2 separate regions of the Homo sapiens genome follow, and region 1 is linked to region 2. Evidence: fine-mapped expression QTL. A gene starts in region 2. The other region holds a variant in brackets. All regions are shown on one strand. Distances are from middle to middle. Region 1 overlaps MTA3 (metastasis associated 1 family member 3). Region 2 holds the start of MTA3 (metastasis associated 1 family member 3).

Region 1 (2,904 bases), 39 kb after region 2:
GGGCTGACCCCCCCACCTCCCTTCCCGGACGGGGGCGGCTGGCCAGGTGGGGGGCTGACCCCCCCACCTCCCTCCCGGACGGGGCGGCTGGCCGGGTGGGGGGGCTGACCCCCCCTCTCCCTCCCGGACGGGGTGGCTGGCCGGGCTGAGGGGCTCCTCACTTCCCAGTAGGGGCGGCCGGGCAGAGGCGCCCCTCACCTCCCGGACGGGGCGGCTGGCCGGGCGGGGGGCTGACCCCCCCCCACCTCCCTCCCGGACGGGGTGGCTGCCGGGCGGAGACTCTCCTCACTTCCCAGATGGGGTGGCTGCCGGGCGGAGACGCTCCTCACTTCCCAGATCGGGTGGCTGCCGGGCGGAGAGGCTCCTCACCTCTCAGACGGGGCAGCTGCCGGGCGGAGGGGCTCCTCACTTCTCAGACGGGGCGGCCGGGCAGAGACGCTCCTCACCTCCCAGACGGGGCGGCGGGGCAGAGGCGCTCCCCACATCTCAGACGATCTCCTCACATCCCAGATGATGTGCGGCCGGGCAGAGACGCCCCTCACTTCCTAGATGTGATGGCGGCTGGGAAGAGGCGCTCCTCACTTCCTAGATGGGATGGCGGCCGGGCGGAGACGCTCCTCACTTTCCAGACTGGGCAGCCAGGCAGAGGGGCTCCTCACATCCCAGACGATGGGCGGCCAGGCAGAGACACTCCTCACTTCCCAGACGGGGTGGCGGCTGGGCAGAGGCTGCAATCTCGGCACTTTGGGAGGCCAAGGCAGGCGGCTGGGAGGTGTAGGTTGTAGTGAGCCGAGATCACGCCACTGCACCCCAGCCTGGGCACCATTGAGCACTGAGTGAACGAGACTCCGTCTGCAATCCCGGCACCTCGGGAGGCCGAGGTTGGCGGATCACTCGCGGTTAGGGGCTGGAGACCGGCCTGGCCAACACAGCGAAACCCCGTCTCCACCAAAACCAGTCAGGCGTGGCGGCGCGTGCCTGCAATCGCAGGCATTCGGCAGACTGAGGCAGGAGAATCAGGCAGGGAGGTTGCAGTGAGCCGAGATGGCAGCAGTACAGTCCAGCTTCGGCTCCGCATGAGAGGGAGACCGGAGGTAGAGGTAGGGGTAGGGGTAGGGGTAGGGGTAGGGGTAGAGGTAGAGGTAGAGGTAGGTAGAGGTAGAGGGTAGAGCTCTGAATGTTTCTTGAGGTTCACTTTTACCCCGCAAGTAAAATAGGGTGGATACAAAGATAAGTGACCTGTCATTGTTCTCAAGGGATGCAGTGAAATCAGTTAACTGTAGAGTAGAGCAAAGCATACTGTGAAGTACCTTAAGCGTATGTGGGTGCTGCTTTGTAGCAAAGAGGAGTCTCCCGCTGGAGATTGGTGAGAGTCTCATGGATCAGACTCTGGCTCAGAGGCATTGTTCAACTTTATTTATTTATTTATTTCGACATAGGGTCTTGCTGTATCGCCCAGGCTGGAGTGCAGTGGTGCGATCTCAGCTCACAGCACCTTCCACCTCCTGGGCTCAAGCGATCCTCCTACATCAGTCTCTGAGTAGCTGGGACCATGGGCTTGGCTAATTTTTGTATTTTTTGTAGAGATGTTTGGTCTTGAACTCCTGGGCTCAAGCGATCTGCTTGCCTCAGCCTCCCAA[A/G]GTGCTGGAATTGCAGGCATGAGCCATCACACCTGGCCTGTCTAACTTTAAATTTATCTTTTGAATTCTCTTTACTCTTCATCCACTCTAATAATTGATTTATCTCACACCGAGGTGGACAGATTGCTTGAGCTCAGGAGTTCGAGATCAGCCTGGGCAACATGATGAAACCCTGTCTCTACTAAAAATACAAAAATTAGCCAGGTGTGGTGGCACACGCCTGTAATCCCAGCTACTCAGGAGGCTGAGGCAGGAGAATCACTTGAACCCGGGAGATGGAGGTTGCAGTGAGCCGAGATTGTGCTACTGCACTCTAGCCTGGGTGACAGAGCGAGACTCCGTCTAAAAAAAAGTTATACAAATACATAAATGAAATTTGAAATTTAACTGGTAAATTTTAAAAAGTGGTTTTCATTAGTGATCTGCATCATGAGAGATGCCGTTGTGATTTTTGTCTTTGGTTAGGTTGGATTTCAGTGATTTTGGTCCTTTTTATGGTGAACCAAGGGATCGTATAAGAACGTAAGATTTACTGTTGCTGTTGTAGAGCTGGTTGCTGTTTTAGCTCTGTAGGGTATGCATTAGAATTCAGTTAGCTGTGTCTTATACAACAACAATTTGTCAAATCCTAATTAGGTAAAGAGTGTAATTTTGTATGTGATATTTTCTAGTGCTAATAGTGCCAATGCAGCAGCAACTTTATCAATCTTCACTGGTGAAATGTTATTAGACCTGCAAGTAAATGGCCCTTTTAGTGCTATATTTCTCTTTGAGTAGTTCATTAAAAAGAATATCCAAAGAATTTTAAATTGCTTTATTCTTGCTTTGAGCTAGGTGCATCTTTTTCTAAGTTACTGTTTAAGGTTCATTTTCAATTCAGTTTTAAAAGTTTGAAAGTAGAAAAGATCTGATACTTACTCCATTCATTACCCTCATGCTATTCATAAAGAACTACTTCAACAAGAGCATTATATTTGATAAAATCCCTTCTGTGAGGTTGGGTGTGGTGGCTCATGCCTGTAATCCCAGCACTTTGGGAGGCCAAAGCAGGCAGATCACTTGAGCCCAGGAGTTCGAGACCAGCCTGGGCAACATGGTGTAACGCTGTCTCTACTAAAAATACATAAAGTTAGCCAGGTGTGGTGATGTACGCCTGTAATCACAGCTACTCTGGAGGCTAAGGCACAAGAATTGCTTGAACCTAGGTGGTGGTGTTTGCAGTGAGCTGAGATTACACCACTGCACTCCAGCCTGGGCGACAGAG
Region 2 (2,904 bases):
TCTGTGTTCCCTGGTTTACAAAGCATTTTCAGATATCATCGCAACTGATCCTTACCACACCTGTGAAGGGGGAACTCACGTCCCCATTTTATAGACGAGGAAACAGGTCATAGAGTCAATGTAATTCAATAGTGCTTTATTTTTTATTTTTATATTTTGCCTCAGCTATGCACAGTTTTTTCATCTCAATACTTTGTGATAAGTGACCATCACAAATGTCATCACCAAACCACCAAAACACAACCTTCTTTTCTGGGGGCACCTCTTAGCCCCGCACAGACCTTAAACCCAGAGTCGACAGCACACAGCTGTGTATCACCACACATTCCAAACAAGCCACCACACCAAGAAATCTTCTTCGTGTTTATTATGCAGCAATGTCTGGGAGTACTTTGGAATGGACTGGCTTCTCTAAAGAAAGTTATTTGTGTTCATTTGGGGGATCGCCAGCTAAGATTCAACGTTGTTTTTTTTTTTTTGTATCTGTGAGAGTAGGAAGGCCGTGAAAACAGAGGTTGTTTAGAGAATTGGCCTGGGACAATAACCATTTAGAAGCTTTAGGCACGTAACCAGTTAAGTGTCCATCGACATGAAACTGATTGAATACAATCTCCTCTGTTTGGGGGTGGTGGTGATTGTGAACTGTAGGGCCCTGTTCCCCCATGGACAAAGGAAGCCCCTCACTCCTAAAGGTCCCTTTTCCCAGCAGAACAGGCCCTGCATATACAGTGCCCGTCTAGAGCCAGGGCCTCCATCTGGGTGTTGGACAGTTGGTTCTGCTCAGCCCAGTTTTGGGGTAAACGATGACGCAGTTAGGGTGGCCTAGGAAGGGAGTTTTTCTACCTCTGTCCCCAGCTGGGTCTCTGGCGAGGCGGGAAGCACCCGGAATCTTCCTGGCCCTAGAGCCTGCAGGCTCCAGGCCGGCCCCTTGAATCTCACCGCGAGGAAGGCACCCTGCTGCCTGCACTTATTTGCATCCAAGAGTTTGCATTGAGACTGGCGCTTGCCTACTAGGGCAGCCACAGGGGGGTTCCCCAGGGACAGAGGTAGGGAAGGAGGACCTGTCTTGGGGTGGACAGGTGACGGGGTACCCTGGGTGGGGGAAGAGGTGCTGGGGAGAGGCTAAGCCCCAGCCCCCACTCTAATTCTCTAACAGCCCCTGGTCCGCATTTGAGTGCAGGCCTCTGCCTCAGCCAGGACCCTGACCCCAGGGCCCTCCACTTCCAGCAAGGCCCCCCACCCTCCCTCCCACTCCCACTCCCTTTCCCCTCCCCCTCCCCCCCAATTCCCGCTGGCCCCGCAGCGCTCCAGCCTCCCCGGGCCTCCCCCGGCCCGGCCCACTCGGCCTTGCTAGCCTGGCGCTGGGGGCGGGCACCAGCCCCCACCCCTCGGCGTACCATCCCCTTTACTTCCCCCACCCCCTGTCCCCTCCCTTCCCTCCCTTCCCCCCCGTGGCGAGGCAGCAGCGACGGCGGCGGCGGCAGCGGCGGTCGCGGCTGAGGCTGAGGAGGAGGCGGCGGCGGCGGGCGGGGCTCGGCTCGGGCTCCGCGGGCGGGCGGGCGGACATGGCGGCCAACATGTACCGGGTCGGAGGTAGGCAGGCTCGGCCCGACCCGGCCCGTGTGGGAGCGGGTTCCGGGAGCGGGGGGCCGGGGCGAGTGCACGCCAACTGCCGGGAGCCAAGGGCGCCGGGGCTGAGGTCGCAGTGGGCTGGGGCGCCGGGGCCCGCAGAGGGGCCGGGACTCCCCACCCCCACCCATCCCTTCCCCTCCCCCCACGCGGGCTCGCGAGGGCCCGGGGCCACCTTCACCCTCGCACCCCGCCCAGTGTTTAGGGCCAGGCCTCTACTTGGGGGTACGAATTACCAGACACCCCCCTCCACGAAACCCTCATCGGGGTAGGGCCCGTCGAGCCCCCTGAGAAGGTGGCCTTCTTGCGTGGCTTCTAGGCGCTGGAGAGGATGAGGGGACATCCCCTCTCCTGCTTCTTCCCCACTCAGTGGGAGCCTGGGGTGGGGGTGGGGGTGGGGGCGGTGGGGGCCCAGCCAGGGGCCCAGCTGGACGGGCCTGTTTGCGTGCCGGGGCCCTGCACCTCCCCTTCCTCGGCCCCCCTCCTTTTCGTTTCTGGTCCAGTCCCCCACGAATGGGGCTTCGTGGGAGCTGGGAACCTCAGCCGGAGGTGGGGAGTTGAGCTCTGCCTGGACGTTTGCTCTGCTGCCTGCCTCCTTCCCAGTCTTCTGCGGAAGAGAGAAATAAGGTCAAACAAACTTTCTCCCTACTCACGACGCCCTCCTCCCTCTTTCCTGGTAAAATAATAATTCAGATAAGTGGCGTGTTTGTATGAGAGACTGGCTCTTCCTTCTCTGCTCATTAGCCGAGCTTCTGATGGATGGTGGTGGGAATGGCCTGGCTAAATGAGGCCACTTTGCAGAAGAGAGCGGCGAAAGAGCCACTAAGATAGACAATAACAATGCAGCTGCCTTTCGGATAAACACACAGTGGGAAGTTTCCAGCAAGCCTATTAGATGAGAGGAAAAGCCACACTTGAAAAATTTTATCCTTTTAGTTGAAAGCCTGCAGCAATTTCTTAATCACAAGACATTAAATGGATCTGGATTAAATATGGTAAAAGGGTAAAAAAGATGCTGATATCACCCCCAGAACACTTTGCCTCTTAGAAGTGATCCCCCGGCCCCCTTTTTTCCTCATCTTCCCAGGTAAAACTGTGGAAAAGTTTGTCAGCGTTCTTCCTCTTAACCTGTTCTGCTCATCTGATTTTTTTTTTTTTTTTTAAGTAGTGATTGAAATGTAGGTTGGACTGTGAAGCCTTTCTCCCTGCTCTGAATGTGTCTTAGGTCAATAGTTTTATGTGAGAAGCAGCCTGCAGGGCAAATTGTATTGGAGG

The links. PIP is the estimated chance that this variant, and not a neighbour inherited with it, causes the effect. A credible set is the group of variants that fine-mapping cannot tell apart.
Region 1: its variant is the best candidate, but not a certain one, in a credible set for the expression of MTA3 in whole blood (TOPMed, PIP 0.63).

Annotation. Positions count from the first base shown.
Region 1 is chr2:42,605,966-42,608,869 of GRCh38, forward strand. The region is part of intron 3 of MTA3 (metastasis associated 1 family member 3); the gene reads left to right. All of the region lies in intron 2 of LOC105374555 (a long non-coding RNA gene), which reads right to left. Among named protein-coding and RNA genes, the nearest start is that of MTA3, 39 kb to the left of the region's middle. RefSeq lists an enhancer at 144-895. The variant A/G (reference allele first, on the strand shown) is at 1,641.
Region 2 is chr2:42,567,181-42,570,084 of GRCh38, forward strand. MTA3 (metastasis associated 1 family member 3) reads left to right here and starts at 1,452. Exons shown (of 17, transcript NM_001330442.2): 1 at 1,452-1,593. The coding sequence starts at 1,566. RefSeq lists an enhancer at 700-839 and silencers at 1,080-1,129, 1,190-1,239, 1,510-1,669, 1,730-1,809.